Regions from separate parts of the Homo sapiens genome. Here regions 2 and 3 are each linked to region 1. Evidence: fine-mapped expression QTL. A gene starts in region 1. Each other region holds a variant in brackets. All regions are shown on one strand. Distances are from middle to middle.

What was found.
Region 2: its variant is fine-mapped to the expression of SLC4A8 in monocytes (Quach 2016, PIP 0.95).
Region 3: its variant is fine-mapped to the expression of SLC4A8 in whole blood (TOPMed, PIP 0.98).

Annotation. Positions count from the first base shown.
Region 1 is chr12:51,422,279-51,427,501 of GRCh38, forward strand. It overlaps SLC4A8 (solute carrier family 4 member 8), which reads left to right and starts at 2,553. Exons shown (of 25, transcript NM_001039960.3): 1 at 2,553-2,757. The coding sequence starts at 2,710. SLC4A8-AS1 (SLC4A8 antisense RNA 1) reads right to left here and starts at 3,050. Exons shown (of 3, transcript XR_001749147.2): 1 at 2,962-3,050; 2 at 2,209-2,321. RefSeq lists silencers at 2,312-2,521, 2,792-3,001 and an enhancer at 3,112-3,171.
Region 2 is chr12:51,371,780-51,377,002 of GRCh38, forward strand. The region is part of intron 4 of GALNT6 (polypeptide N-acetylgalactosaminyltransferase 6); the gene reads right to left. Among named protein-coding and RNA genes, the nearest start is that of GALNT6, 17 kb to the right of the region's middle. RefSeq lists an enhancer at 1-101. The variant G/A (reference allele first, on the strand shown) is at 3,034.
Region 3 is chr12:51,399,980-51,405,202 of GRCh38, forward strand. It overlaps a transcript of SLC4A8 not described here. Among named protein-coding and RNA genes, the nearest start is that of GALNT6, 11 kb to the left of the region's middle. The variant C/G (reference allele first, on the strand shown) is at 2,862.

The DNA.
Region 1 (5,223 bases):
CCTTCAGCGTCCTGCTTTTTATCATTTAAGAAAAATAAAGTCTGAATGAATTAGCCAGATCTCCACAATTTGATCACAGCCTTTTATTTTATTTATTTTTTATTTTTTTGAGACAGGGTCTCACTCTGTCACCTCGGCTGGAGTGGAGTGGTATACTGAAGCCTCTCCTGGGCTCAGGTGATCCTCCCACTTCAGCTTCCTGAGGGGCTGGGACTGCAGGTGCATGCCACCATGCCTGGCTAATTTTTTTGTATTTTAAAAATAGAGATGGAATTTCTACATGTTGGCCCAAGTTGGTCTTGAACTGTTGGGTTCAAGGGATCCATCTGTCTTGGCCTCCCAAAGTGCTGGGATTACAAGTGTGAGCCACCATGCCCAGCCCACAGCCTTTCTCTATCACAACTATTACCTCCCACTGCTCTTCTCAATAACTTTCTGCTTTGGCCCAAATTGTGGCTACCCTGAATGGGCCATGTGCATTATTATTCTTAAGTCTTTGCCTAAGACTTGAGATGCTTGCTCTTCTTACCTTGGGTCAGCTAAATCTTACCCATGTTTTCAGACTTAGCTCGAATCCATGTCCTCTGTGAAACCTTCCTGAAGATCATTTTCTCTTCTGAATTTTTGCAATCTTCATGGTTTATATAATATTACTCATTAACATATACCCTGTTTCCCTGATAAGCCTGTTAAGCTCCCTTGGAGATATATATTTTAGATTTCTCTGCCTCTACAGTGTTACTTGGGCCTGTTCATTAGTAGGTGTTCAATACATTTTTTATTAGATTGAATTAAAAGCATTCATATTTACTAAGTACTTTCTATGTGCCTGGGATTGGTTGAGGCTCTGTTGAGTATACAGAAGGGCATAAGAAAAATAATCATTGCTTTCAAAGAACTTATAATATTTTAGTAAGCTAAAGTCAACATATAAAGTACTTAAATAACCACAGCATGACAACTGCTATAAGAAAGGTATGAAGTGCCTTGAGAATTCTGGGGAGGGTGAGATGACATCTGTTAGGGGTATCAGGGACAGTAGAATAAAGAAAGGCTTCTTGGAAGAGGGTGGCTTTTGAGATTAACTTTGAAGGATGGTTAAGATTTTGATGGACAAAAATGGGGATGAGGGTAGGATGTGAATTCCAGATTCAAGATGACAGGATTAGTAAAGAGATTGATGGAGTGTGTGGCAATGAACACTAAAACGCAGAGACTAGACAGGAGGCTTATACAGGACATCAGAAATACAATTCTGCTTCAGGGATACTGAAGCCCAACCTTGTTTCCAATTTCAGGACCAACACAAAGGATGGTAAGCAGGGGTGGAAAGTTTTAACATGTATCAGACTACCTTCCCCAACTGTAGCTTCTTTAGGGGCTGAGAATTATTTGCAACAATTCTTCCCCTGACCCCAATTTGGACCTACCTGAAGTCTGGTATGATAGTGCATATAAAACAAAAGGCCCCACGGCCGGGTGCCATGGCTCACGCCTGTAATCCCAGCACCTTGGGTGGCTGAGGCGGGCAGATCACCTGAGGTCAGGAGTTCCAGACCAGCCTGGCCAACATGGTGAAACCCCGTCTCTACTACAAATACAAAAAAATCAGCCGGGCGTGGTGGTGGGGACCTGTAATCCCAGCTACTCAGGAGGCTGAGGCAGGAGAATCGCTTGAACTGGATAGGCGGAGGTTGCAGTGATCCAAGAACACGCCATTGCACTCCAGCCTGGGCAACAAGAGTGAAACTTCGTCTCCAAAAAAAAAAAAAAAACAAAAAAAACAACAAAAAAAAAACAAAAAAAACCCAAAAGGTACCTTTCTTTTTCTTGAGGAGAGAGGGTTGCTTCGATTTTAGCCAGCCTCTCTTTTCTTATAAATCCAAATCAAATTTAATGCATTATTCATGATATTCTAACCTTGTGTTAAGTCAGTAGTTCTGTTGCTAAATAATAGTTTGCCTTAGATCATTTCCTGGAAAAGTTCGAAGCCTTTTTGTGGAATTGCTTCAACAGTCATCCTTAGCTCGACCCTGTCCGTGTGTTTTGCTTCTGACTTGAGACTCAAGAAGAAGACCTAAGTCATAGTGAGACTGTGAGGGAGCCTGACACTGCCTGCCTTCTTCAATTTAATGCTCTTTAATCTGGCCATTAGCTCAAGGAAAAACAATTAATTTTAGAAGGCCCTCTCCCCTCATCCGCAATTACCTCCTCCTGCAATCGCGAAGGATGTTTGCCCGGAATTTAAACATCATCTCCCAAGGAATGAAATCAGAATAGGCAAAACCGACACTTTCCCAGTTTTCAAGGGTCAGGTGCAGCTGCAAATAGAAGCAGAGATTTTCTAGCAAGCAGTTGGAAGGACCTTCACGCCCAGAGGCCCCTGAAGGGAGGGAGGCGGTTTCCAAGGCAACCGGGCCCGGGAGCGGTTGGCTCCCCGGCTCCTCCCCCTCCCCGCGGTAGCCCAGGGTACCGCCGGACAGCGTCCTCCCGTGCTCCGCGCCCTGATTGGCTGCGCAGGCCTCTCGCTGATTGGTTGCGGCGGATGCCTCGCGGGCCGGTGGCTATGGAGGCGGCGGCGGTTGATGGTTGACCGTTGGCTCCGGGGTGGGGGTCGCCGTTCGAGTGATCTGCTCAGACCCGACCAGAGGGCGCGGGCTGCTGATGCTTGGCTTGGAGCCCGTGGGGGAGACCTAGTTCGGCTCCGCCATGCCGGCCGCCGGGAGTAACGAGCCGGACGGCGTCCTCAGCTATCAGGTAGGGCCCCGCCTCCCGCGCCTCCCGCTCCTCCCCGGGGCGCAGCCTCCTCATCCTCTGCCCACCCTCCTTCCTTCTGCCCCCGAGCCCAGGCTTCCCAGGCCGCTCCCTGAGGGCGAGGGGAGGCCAGCCCGGGACACCAGGGGGCGCTCCGGGCGGTTGGGGACCAGGCCAGGGCTGCGAGAGAGTGACCTTGGGCCGAACCTGGGATCTGGCCCATCTCTGCCGCATCCCTTGCGCCGCCCGCCCAGGAGCCCTGACAGCCGGCGGGCGGCGACCTCTTGTTCTCCTCGCGTCTTTCTGTTGGAAGGGGCCGGCGTCTGGCCTCGCGTTGTCCTGCCAGAACGTGGGCAGAAAGGGTAGCAGGGACCTTGCTCTGGTGGGGCACGTCTTCTCTTTGTGTTTTTATTTCTGGGGGTTTCTGGTTCCTCAGTGGTTCAGAGGAAAAGCCAGAAAAGACTCTGGAGGCTGGGACCAATCCCTGATAGGGTGACCCGGTTTGTGACTCCCTCTGCCCCATTGAACAGACACCTGAAAACTTCTGGGTAGGGACTGCAAACTGGGCTGAGGATGTGTGGAGGGGTCAGGAACAGGTGCTTATTTAAGGGAATTAAAAAACCAAGGTTAAGTAACTGGTATTGGAACTGTTGGGGCGGCTAATGTAAGGAAAAGCATTGGACTAAGTGTTAGAGTCTGTAGTTTGAAATCCTACCTCTGCCTCACACAAACTTTGTGACCTTGAGTAAGTCACTTGCCTCTTTGAACCTCAGTTTCCCCAGCTATTAAAATGGGAATAGTTATGTCTGCTTTGCATGCTTCACAGGGTTGTTTTGAGGATCAGACGAAGTGCTGTTTGTGAAAGGGCTTTGTGGAGTAATGTTTATTGTGTGACACTCAGTGAATGAGTGGCAGCCCATTGAATTCTCACTCCCCGTTTCCTGTGCAATCAGATGGTGTGGTTTCTGCCTTGGAAAGAGGGTTGGAAGAGGAGGCAAGTCTGAAGTACAGGGCTCTGAAGAGGGTAATGGGCCATCTCAGGAAGGATGACACGTCTTGGAAACAAGTGCCATGTTGACCTCAGGGATGGTTTCCCCGAGGAGGCAGGGAAAATATCCTGAGTTTGCAACAAAATGAGTATCAGACACTGACTCTCTCCTCTTCTTCCTGGTTAATAGTTTGCTACAATTAATAGAAGATACATCCTTCTTTCCTTGCTCTGTCTGAAAAGAACAATATCTAAGATTTTGGAAAATGCATATCTAACCCCCTTAAAGCCTATTAAATGTATTCAATCTCTGTTTGGGATACAATGGTAAGAAAAAATAGGCAATGTTCTTGCCCTCCTGGAGCGTATCATTTAGTGGGGGAGGGGAGAAGTACTATTTTTAATCAAATATCACACAAATAAATATCATAAACTGTGATAAATGCTTTGAAGAAAGATAGGCAGTGCCATAAGCGTGTATAACAGTGGTTCCAGACATGGTCTCAGAGAAGATTTTGCTAAGGAAGAAAATCTGGGCAAAGAGCTAAAGGATGAATAAATGTTAACTGAGGGAAGAGGGGGATCACAGGGCCTGAGAGGCAAAGAGAACAGCTACACAAAAGACCTGTGGCAGAGGGGGACACACCTGGTTAGAGACCTGAAATGAGGCCAGTGTGGTGCAGCAACAAGGAGCGATGAGGGGAATGGTATATGAGATGTGTTCTGGGGTTATAACACACAGGGCCATTTGGAGCCCATGCTGAGGAAGTTGACATTTATCTGAGGAACAAGGGGAAGCCACTGAAGGGGTTTAAGTAGAGGGGAAAGGGGAGAGAGGGGGTCTCTCCTAACCGGGAGAGAGAGAGAGGGCATGAGAGAGTAAATGAGATCATGAACAGATTTTCTTTTTTTTTTCTTTTCTTTTTTTTTTTTTTTGAGATGGAGTCTTGCTCTGTCGCCCAGGCTGGAGTGCAGTGGTGCGATCTCCACTCACTACAAGCTCCGTCTCCCAGGTTCACGCCATTCTCCTGCCTCGGTCTCCGGAGTAGCTGCGACTACAGGCGCCTTCCACCACGCCCGGCTAATTTTTTGTATTTTTAGTAGAGACAGGGTTTCACCGTGTTAGCTAGGATGGTCTTGATCTCCTGACCTCGTGATCTGCCCGCCTCGGCCTCCCAAAGTGCTGGGATTACAGACGTGAGCCACCGTGCCCGGCCCAGATTTTCCTACTGAAAGATTTCTTTGGCTGCAGTGGGGAGAATAGGTTGGAATGGATGTGAGGATACAGTGTCCTTAACATGCAGAATGTTTACAGGTTATATTATTGAGGGCATCATGACCCTTAGGTTTCTGTTAGTGTTCTGTGAAATTAGTAATTCTTGAGTACTTCTGGAGTAGGATAGAAAATATCTCCTTTATATCTAGTTTGTGAAACTTTCTTGGGTGGTAGGGTGAGGAGAAGAAAAGGAATACAATGGGAA
Region 2 (5,223 bases), 50 kb before region 1:
CTCTCATAGGGCTACTACTGGGTGCCTGGAGTGGAGGTCAGAGAGCAGGGACATTGTATTTCGGCAGAGACACAGTCCTGTTTGTGTGTGTGTGTAATGAGAGCTGGTTAATCTGATCAAACAGTCAAACGTGTGGGAAATTTTATCCCACTGTGGACGGCAGAGATTTCTGACCATGGATCTGAGGGTTTTTTCCTCCTTTCCTCACTGAACTGAATGTTGCTTAAAGTATCTCTAGCGTCTGAAAGCCCTCTGGGTAGGGTTGTTTATCATAGGGTCCACAAATTCCCTGGAATTAAATGCAAAAATGTGGGTTTTGCATATTATTGTGGGCAGTGGTGCACTATTCTAGGGATTTTAACAGATTCTGAAAGGATGCCAGGACCCAGAAAAATAAGAATGACTAGCTTAGGTTTTTCAGGCAGGTGATTGTTTTGTTTTTGTTTTTGACACAGGGTGTCGCTCTGTCACCCATGCTGAATACAGTGGCATGATCAGGGCTCACTGCAACCTTGACCTCCTGAGTTCAGGTGACCCTCCCACCTCAGCCTCTCGAGTAGCTGGGACTACAGGCACATACCACCATGCCCAGCTAATTTTTTATTTTTTTGTAAAGACAGAGTCTTACTATGTTGCCCAGGATGGTCTTGAACTCCTGGGCTCAAGTGATTTTCCCACCTCAGCCTCCCAAAGTGCTGGGATTACAGGTGTGAGCCAGTGCGTCCTGACCATGCAGATGATTTAGAGATGCTGGAATTGGCCTTTGGAGAGAATTGGCTTTAGAAGAGAGTCCAGGGCAACAAGTCCAGGACAGACAGAGAGAAGGTGAACGTGTATATGGTGGCCTGCTAGGGGCGGGTGCTCTGGAGGGGATACTGGGGCTACTGCCAACTCTGCCCTACTGAACACAGGCTACTCTGCCTGTTAGATGCTGCCTATGCCAGCCTGGCATTATGTCACTTGTCTAGCTAGTCAGAGGAGTTGCCTACCTGGGCACTTGCAGCTCACAGAGTCACAAAGTTTAGGGTGAAAAGTTAACAGTTTAGAACCCCCACGTCCAAGGCTACGGGAGCCCACCTCTTGCATCAGCGTGACCTGGATGTGAGACACGAAGTCAAAGGAAATCACTTTGGAACTTTAAGGCTTAATGAATGCCCTGTTGGATTTTCGATTTGCATGGGGCCTGTAGCCCCTCTGTTTTGGCTAATTTCTCCCATTTCAAATGGTTGTATTTACGCAATGCCTATACCTCCATTGTATCTAGGAAGTGACTTAACTTGCTTTTGATTTTACAGGCTCATAGGGGAAGGGACTTGCCTTGTCTCAGATGGGAGTTTGGACTTGGACTTTTGGGTTAATGCTGGAATTAGCTAAGACTTTGGGGGGACTGTTGGAAAGGCATGATTGTGTTTTGAAATGTGAGGACATGAGATTTGGGAGGGGTTAGTGGTGAAATGATATGGTTTGGCTGTTTCCTCACCCAAATCTCATCTTGAGTCGTAGGTCCCATAATCCCCACATGTGATGGAAGGGACCCAGTGGGAGATAATTGAATCATGGGGCAGTTTCCACCATGCTATCCTTGTGATAGTAAGTTCTCACGAAATCTGATGGTTTTATGAGGGGCTTCCCCTTTTGCTCGGCTCTCATTCTTCTCTCTCCTGACACCTCATGAGGAAGGACATGTTTGCTTCCCCTTCTGCCATGATTATAGGTTTCCTGAGGTCTCCCCAGCCCTGCAGAACTGTGAGTTAATTAAACCTCTCTCCTTTATAAATGAGAATGGACTAATACACTCCAGTACAAGAGATTCAGGTGAAAGAGCTTCCGAAGGATGGGTAGCATAGGGTTAGGAGGAGAAAGATAACGAAAGAACCCAGTTTGAGAGGAAGGACCGCTAATATGCTTGCTTCCATTCCATACAACCTTTCCATTGCTACAAAGATTCCCTAGAGATCACTGCCAAGCTCCTCCCATCTCTGCCAAACTCTTCACCCTTCCCTTTCCAGAAGCCTAATCTATACATTCCTTGTCCACCAGACCCTGTCATTGCATCCCTGATACTTGCTTGCCTTGATTTATTTATTATTTTTTTTTAGAGACTGGGTCTCACTCTATTGCCTAGGCTGGAGTACAATGGTGCAGTCAAGGCTCACTGCAGTCTCAGCCTGCTGGGCTCAAGCAATCCTTCCACCTCAGCCCTCCAAGTAGCTGGAACCACAGGCACATGCCACCGTGCCCAGCTAACTTTTCTATTTTTTATAGAGATGGGGTCTTGTGACATTGCCCAGGCTGGTCTTGAACTCCTGGCCTCAAGCAATCCTCCTGCCACAGCCTCCCAAAGTTCTGGGATTACAGGCATGAGCTACTGTGCTTGGCCTATTTTACTTTATTTGTATCTTTTTTAGAGACAAGGTCTCACTCTGCCATCCATGCTGGAGTGCAATGGTGCAATCACAGCTCACTGCAGCCTCAATTTCCTGGGCTCAAGTGATCCTCCCACCTCAGCCTCCCAAGTAGCTGGGACCACAGGCAAATACCACCATGCCTGCTAATTTTTTATTTTTGTAGAGATGGGATTTTGATATGTTGCCCAGGCTGGTCTGGCCTTGCTTTATAAGTGCTGCCAAGTATCTGTCTTCCCTGGGAAGATGTGAGCTTCCTGAAGAAATGAACTCAACAGGGCTCACACTCAGCCCTTCCTTCCACAGCCCTAGTCCTCTTTTCAGCATCACCCCTAACCTAGAGGAAGGAGGGAGGCTGGGGGAGGACAAGGACAGGAAGCAGCTCTACTGGAGTGGCCCCAGCGCTTACACTGGGAAGTGTGGAGTCAGTTCCTGCCCTCACTATTGGGAGTTTGAGCACAGGAGGTCAATCTGGGAGAGCCCCAGACACCACATGCCTCCTACGAGGAGGGCTAAGCTTGTGGAGACTCTCAGCCTAAAGGTGTCTCAGTCCCACAGCCTTTCCTAGTTCAGGCCCCATCATCTCCTACTCTCAAGTGAGTGTAAGAACTTCCTCTCCAGACTGTGA[G/A]TCCTCTGCCTCTCTTCCTGCCGATTATCCTCCTCCAAAGCTGCCATCCTTCTGAAATGAAGTCACAGTACAGATGAAACACTTTCAACGACTCCTTCTTACTTTCTAAATAAATGCTTTTAGCATGACATGAATGTCAATTCAACATTTTTTTTTTTGAGACAGGGTCATGCTCTGGCTCAGCCTCCCGAGTAGCTGGGACTACAGGCACATGCCGTCATGCCAGGCTAATTTTTGTAATTTTTATAGAAAAAAGGTCTTGACATGTTGCCCAGGCTGTCTTGAACTCCTGGGCTCAAGTGATCCACCCGCCTCGGCCTCCCTAAGTGCTGGGATTACAGGGGTGAGCCACTGTCCCTGGCCAATTTAACATCTTTTAAGTCTCATTTCCTAAACAAACCTAAGCTTCAGCCACACCAGATCTCTTTAACAAACACATTCATGTCTTTAGGACTGTGCTTATGCCATTCTCTTGTGGGAATGCCCTTCATCCACTCTTCTCTCTTAGACACTCATCCTTTAAGGCCCAGCTCCAATCTGGCTTCCACTGCAGACCAGCCCTAGCCACGCCAGGCAGAAATGGCACCTCCTGGCTACATACTCCATGGTGCATTGTTCTCGTACCATGAATAAAATGGAATGCATGCTTGTGACACTCTTACTTGATGCCAGCCACTCTGTGGCACATGAATCTCATTTATGACCTATCTCATATCCCTCACCCACCATGTAAGGGACTCAACTGCTCTTTTTTTTTTTTTTTGAGATGGAGTCTCACTCTGTAGCCCAGGCTGGAGTGCAGTAACATGATCTCGGCTCACTGCAACCTCCGCCTCCTGGGTTCAAGCGATTCTCCTGCCTCAGCCTCCCGAGTAGTTGGGACTACAGGCATGCTCTGCCACGCCTGGCTAATTTTTGTATTTTTAGTAGATACGGGGTTTCACCATATTGGCCGGGCTGTCTCGAACTCCTGACCTTAAGCAATCTGCCTGCCTCGGCCTCCCAGAGTGCTAGGATTACAGGCGTGAGCCACCACGCCCAGTCCTTTTTTTTGTTTTGTTTTTTTGAGAAGGAGTCTCACTCTGTCTCTCAGGCAGAAAAGCAGTGGTGCCATCTTGGCTCACTGCAGCCTACGCCTCCCGGGTTCAGGTGATTCTTGTGCCTCAGCCTCCCGAGCAGCTGGGACTACAAGCGCGCACCACCACACCTGGCTAATTATTTTTTGTATTTTGGGTAGAGATGGGGTTTCACCATGTTGGCCAGGCTGGTCTCAAACTCCTGACCTCAAGTGATCTGTCCGCTTCAGCCTCCCAAAGTGCTGAAATTACAGGCTTGAGCCACTGTGCCCGGTCTGCCCCCATTTTTTGAAGAGGAAACAGGTTCAGGGAGGCCAAATGCTTGTCCAAGGTCACAGAGCTAGGAAGGGTCAGAGCTGGGATTTGAATTCCTAGGTGTTGGACTCTGCAGTCCATGCCCTTTCACACCTGTTACAGGTGCATCACTGCCACAGCACTGTGGCTAGTGTTGTAAGAGGCTTCTGGCCGGGCACGGTGGCTCATGCCTGTAATCCCAGCACTTTGGGAGGCTGGAGCAGGCAGATTACCTGAGTTCGGGAGTTCGAGACCAACCTGACCAACATGGAGAAACCCCATCTCTATTAAAAATACAAAATTAGCTGGGTGTGGTGGCACATGCCTGTAATCCCAGCTACTAGGGAGGCTGAGGCAGGAGAATCGCTTGAACCTGGGAGGCGGAGGTTGTGGTGAGCTGAGATCACACCATTGTACTCCAGCCTGGGCAACAAGAGCGAAACTCCATCTCAAAAAAAAAAAAAAAAAAAAGGCTTCTGACCTATGGGGGTTTTTAGTATTTTCAGGGCAGGGTCTGTCTCCTTTGTCATGGCATCCCCTCTGCCTGGGTCAGAGCCAGGCACACAGTACTCAGTAGATGTTTGTGGAATTGAAGGCTGGAAGTTTGGTGAGCAACCCCACTTACCTATCAACAGCTATGGCAAAAAGGGCTGGTTGGGGAGTCTTCAAGAGCAGAAGAGTGGCCCAGCGGGTAGGAAACAGAGGTGAAGGCCTGTCCCTACCCTCTGCCCTGTCTCTCCCAGCATTTCTGAGTTAGGGTTGGCCTTGGCAGCGTTCAGGGAGTCTTGAAGCCAGAGCTGAAAAGCTCTTGGAGCTCTTT
Region 3 (5,223 bases), 22 kb before region 1:
CAAAAAAAAAAAAAAAAAAAACCATGTTGGCACTGTCCAAAGGTAGCACAGAGGTACGAAGTGGTCCCTCCTCCTGGGTGTGGTGGGTGGAGTGGGCAGAGGCCATGCAGACCCAAGCACTGCCCCTTGGCCCTCTCCTGGGTTTGTTCCACCTGGACCTGCAGATAAATCCAGAGGCCTTTGATCTCAAGGATTTCTAACCACCCAGAGATCAGGAGGAAAGACTGCAAAGGAAGCCCTAAAGTAGAATAACCTTTTCTTTCTCCATGAATGGAATGTAAGTTATGTTTGCTGAGGGCAGATTAAAATAGATTTTATTGTTTGAAATCAGGAATTTACAGAAACTCTTTGAAGAGCTACTATCATCGAAGACCTTTAAATCCCCCACTGTGGTAGTGGGCAAAATAGTCACGTACAATTGTAATGTGTATAGATGTGTATAGGTTTTCTCAGAGTTGGGACCCACTGCCAGGCAGGGAGTTGGTGGTATTTGATGCTGTTGTTTGGGGAGGAGTGGTACTAAGAAAAAAAACCATGGTTAGTGAGGAAAAAACAAAAAACACAAAACACACTCTCAGTTGCCCATAGAGTTATATCAGTTTGATGGGATACCCTAGAACACCTCAGGGGTCTGTGAATCCTTTAACCACTCAATGGAAAAGGTGACTGGGGTATAGATTGTCTAGTTTGTTTATATGACATAACTTTTTTCCAACGGTACTTGAGAGGAGTGTGAATGAACTCCTTTATATATATATATATATATATATATATATATATATATATATATATATATATACATACATACACACACACACACACATATATAAACATATATGTTTATATACGTATATAAACATATATGTTTATATACGTATATAAACATATATATGTATATACATATATATATATTTTTAAACAGGGTCTCACTCTGTTGCCCAGGCTGGAGTGCAGTGGCACCGTCACGGTGAAACGGGAAAGGTTCCCTTGTCCCCCTCACAGGGAGTGCAACAAGGGGAGTGGCTCGCTTCTTTAGGGCCCGGCTGCTGAAATCTCTATGGAACATACAGATGGGCAGGTTGTGGGGTTCAGATCCCACGGCAGCGTCTACCTTTGGACAGTGCCAACATGTTTTTCTTTTGTTTGTTTGAGACGGAGCGTTCCTCTGTCGCCAGTTAGTGTTTACAGCTCCTAGCCCCAGTGGGCGTGTGCTACCGTGTGCTCTTTTAATTTTGCCGTCTGTAGGCGGCTGTGCTAACCAGCTGGATTAGACCCTCTGCCTTATCGCGAGGTTTTCTGTATCCCGGGTTCTTGCCTTGGTGTACCGGAAAAATCAGATCATATGTGGGCTTGGAGAATGAGTGCAAGGTTTTATTGATTTTAAGTAGCTCTCAGTAGATAGGGGAGCCAGAAGGGAGATGGAGTGGAAAGGTGGTTTTCCCCTGAGTTGGGCCGCTCAGCAGCTGGGCTCTCCTCTGACTGCCCCAGGCAAACTCTATGTCTTTCCGTGGGCCGATGGCGTGCCAGCGTGCTGGCATCTGCCACTGCATGTTGGTATGCTCTTCCACCAGTGTATTCCTCTCGATGTCCAGCTGCCTGTGCGTTCCTCTACTGATCTGTTCCTCTTGACGTCCAGCCGCTTGTGTCTCTGCCCGCTCGGGTCTCGGGGTTTTTATAGGCACAGGATAGGACTGTGGTGGGCCACGGTGGTCTTGGGAAATGCAACGTTTGGGCATGAAAACAGAAATGCCTGTCCTCACCTAGGTCCCTGGGCACAGGCCTGGGGGTGCAGCCCTAGCCAGGGACCACCCCCTTCCCTTCCCAGCACTTCCCTGCCCCACTCCCATATCAACTCTTCAATGCAGCCTCAGCCTCCCCAGGCTCAAGCAATCCTCCCACCTCAGCCCCCTGAGTAGCTGGGAGTACAGACATGTGCAACCACACCCAGCTAATTTTTCTATTTTTTTTTGTAGAGATGGGATCTCCCTATGTTGCCCAGGCTGGTCTCAAACATCTGAGCTTAAGTGATCCTCCTCCTTCAGCCTCCCAAAGTGCTGGAATTACAGGCATGAGCCACAGTGTCTGGCCCCTTCGTATCTTAACCACCAGGAGAAACAGACCTGAAGTGATGCCTTGATATATGTGTGTTATGCAAGACTAGAGTAAGATTTGACAGGCATATATGGTTACAACAGGGGGTGAGCTCAGACTTTGAAAAGATATTGGCTTCACTCCCTAATCATCAAGACTTGGAATATCCTGGGATTCAGCTGTTGTTGAAGGGAAACCATTCCAGGTTTGCCAAACAATTGAGTGACTTAAGGGGTGCAAAGCTAGAATGCTTCAAGAATAGAGGGAGAAGAAGCCCTGCTGTGCTGATGGGCTCTCTATGGTGTTATCCTGTCCTGGCATTTGCTACCCCGATAAACTCACAGGTGCTAAATTTAAAGGCTAAAGTGAGGCCTGGCACAGTAGCTCACGCCTGTAATCTCAACACTTTGGGAGGCTAAGGTGCGTGGATCACCTGAGGTCGGGAGTTTGGGACCAGCCTGGCCAACATGGTGAAACCCCGTCCCTACTAAAAATGCAAAAATTACCTGGGTGTAGTGGCGTGTACCTGTAATCCCAGCTACCTGGGAGACTGAGGCAGGAGAATCTTTTGAACCTGGGAGGTGGAGGTTGCAGTGAGCCGAGACCGCGCCATTGCACTCCAACCTGGGGTACAAGAGTGAAACTCCATCTCAAAAAATAAAAAATGAAAGCTAAAGTGGTCAGGGTAGTTGACTCCTAGGCATTTATTTGTCCCTTTGCAATTAATCTAAGCACCATATGGTGATTCCACTCTCCTTGCCAGTGATGGG[C/G]AAAGACGGGTGTCTTCTGGGGGTGCTTGTCACTTATCCTGTTCTTCACAGCGTTATCCCATGGCCAGATGCTATGGGAGAGGCATGTCTCAGTATGGGACTGGGGGTCCCTGATAGAATCCCCCCCAGTGAAAGGAGAGACTCTGAGAATGACTGCATGAAGTCCCCCAGTTAGCTGGCAGTTCTGTAGTCATGGGTAAGTTGTTTAGCCTGTTTTCATTTTTTTTTAAAGGACAATTATATAGAGTCTGTTGTGAAATTTAGATTAGGTAATAGGTATAAACTGCTCAGAACAGTGCTCAGAACATAATAAATGCTCTATGTTCAACAAGAACAACAGCAACAAACTCAGAAGCACTCCTCGCTACCGCCGGGGAGACCCAGGATACCTAAACTTTACTGAGTTGGGGCCACTCAAGCCTGAACAGAAGGATCAGTGGAGCCAACATGTGAGTTTCTTGATATGTGCCTGTTACTCCACCAGAAAGCGTTACTTACTCATTTCCAGAGTTTGGGCAGGAGCCATGACAGCCTGTTGATGAGCTTGGCTGAATCATGAAATTTGGCCTGGGTTTGAGGGTGGGCAAGAATGGCCGCTTGGATCCTGCTCAAAGTTCTTTCGTTTTAGGTTTACTCCCAAAGCAGCTGAAAGCAGTGCACAGGATAGAAATGAAACAAGGGTACATTTAGGTGGGTGGCTGCTGCTTCCCATGGCCTCTTGTGTCAACTCCCAAAGAAGCACCCCTCAGAGTCTGCCGATGTTACCATTCAGTGGGGGAGAAAGATGTTTGCCAGACTGGAGCAGCAGATAACGGCAGGTTCACTGCCTTTATACCCCAGCCACATGGCACCCAGAAGGAATAAGAACACCTATTTTATTTAACACCCGGCAATAATTCTGTTAATCAAGCCATGTCACCCAGGTCTAAAGTCTAAGCATTGAGATTCTTCCCATGTCAGCCTTGGGGCAATCATTCCTTATCTGTACTTTTGCCGTAGGCAGGGCGGTTGCTAGCATTGCTAAAAGGCATCCTTTCTGTTGGGCAGATGCAAAGCTATACATTAGGATGCTTGCTTGACAAGCTAAGTGTGTGCAAGGCACAAAAGTTGCACAACCACAGGTGGTGGCAGTGGCTGCAGGGCCCTGGAGTTCCCATTTCTGCTTGGGGCCTGGCACAGTGATCTCTGCCTTAGGGTAGACAAGGGAAGTAGGCTTCACTCAGGGTGAAGTCAGACTTGTGAGCAAATCATAAGACTCTTCCGTGTGGCCACTGTTGCTGCTTGCTGCAACACAAAAGCAGACGCAAATAGGACATCGGGAGCTACATGAAGGGGTTAGATGGCTTTGGAACCCTGGGCTGCCTGGTGAGCATAAAATTGTCAGTCTGTGGAAGTTGACTCCTGACCAAATGCAAGAGAGGCTGGGGAGGTTGACTATGTACAAGGAGAGGCAGAGATTGGGATGGGGCAGTCAAGTACAAAGAACCTGCTTTTTCCTTTAGCATCTTTTAGGGAACTACCTTCCTTTGATTCTTAGTCCATGAAATTCAGATGAGGCCCTCCTCACTCCCTAGCGCCAGCCAGGTGAATCTTAAATCTTGTAGCCACAGTGATTGGTTTAGGGTTAGGCATGTTACCCAAGCCAGGCCACTCAGAGCTTTCTCTGAGACATTTCTTAGGGCAAGCAAAAAAGATGAACTCCTCCCCCCGTCTTTTCTCCTCCATCCCCACATGACCACTGATGGAATCATTAGATGGGAAGTTATGTATGTTTAGGGTGGCTAGTGATCATCTTTGCTATTACATGAGGCAGGAGAGTCAACTTGACCGTGAAGCCAACGCTGAGAAAGCAGAGAAAGATAAAGAATGAGAGGACTCCAGTGATATCTTTTGGACTCCTGGGTCCTGCTGTATCTGAAGTCATTTATTCCTAGACTTCTCCTTTCTTCCACTTTCTTTGCTTTCTCCTCCCTTCCCTGCTTTCTTTCTTCCCTTTTCTTTTGTCTCTTTTTCTTTCCTTATTTTTTTCTTGTTTTGATTGAAATTTGTTTGAGTGTGTTTTTGTCACTTTCAACCAAAAGAATCTGATCAATAAATAATATGATGCACTGGATTAAGTTATTGCTATAAGGGCGTGAAAAGGCTTGAGGTAAAAGGGCTGTCTATGTTCATGAAAATCCAGGTCTGGCAGGGAAGAAGCAGAGAGAAACTGCCAAGAAAAGCTTAGGAAATGATGCTTCTGACTCTCCAGGGAGCAGAGAAAGGGAGTTGGGTGGTGACTCACAGTGGGGAGGTGGGAACACATTGGATTGGAAGGGATGGACCACCCATCCTTGTGGGCTTTATTCTATGAGATGCCCTT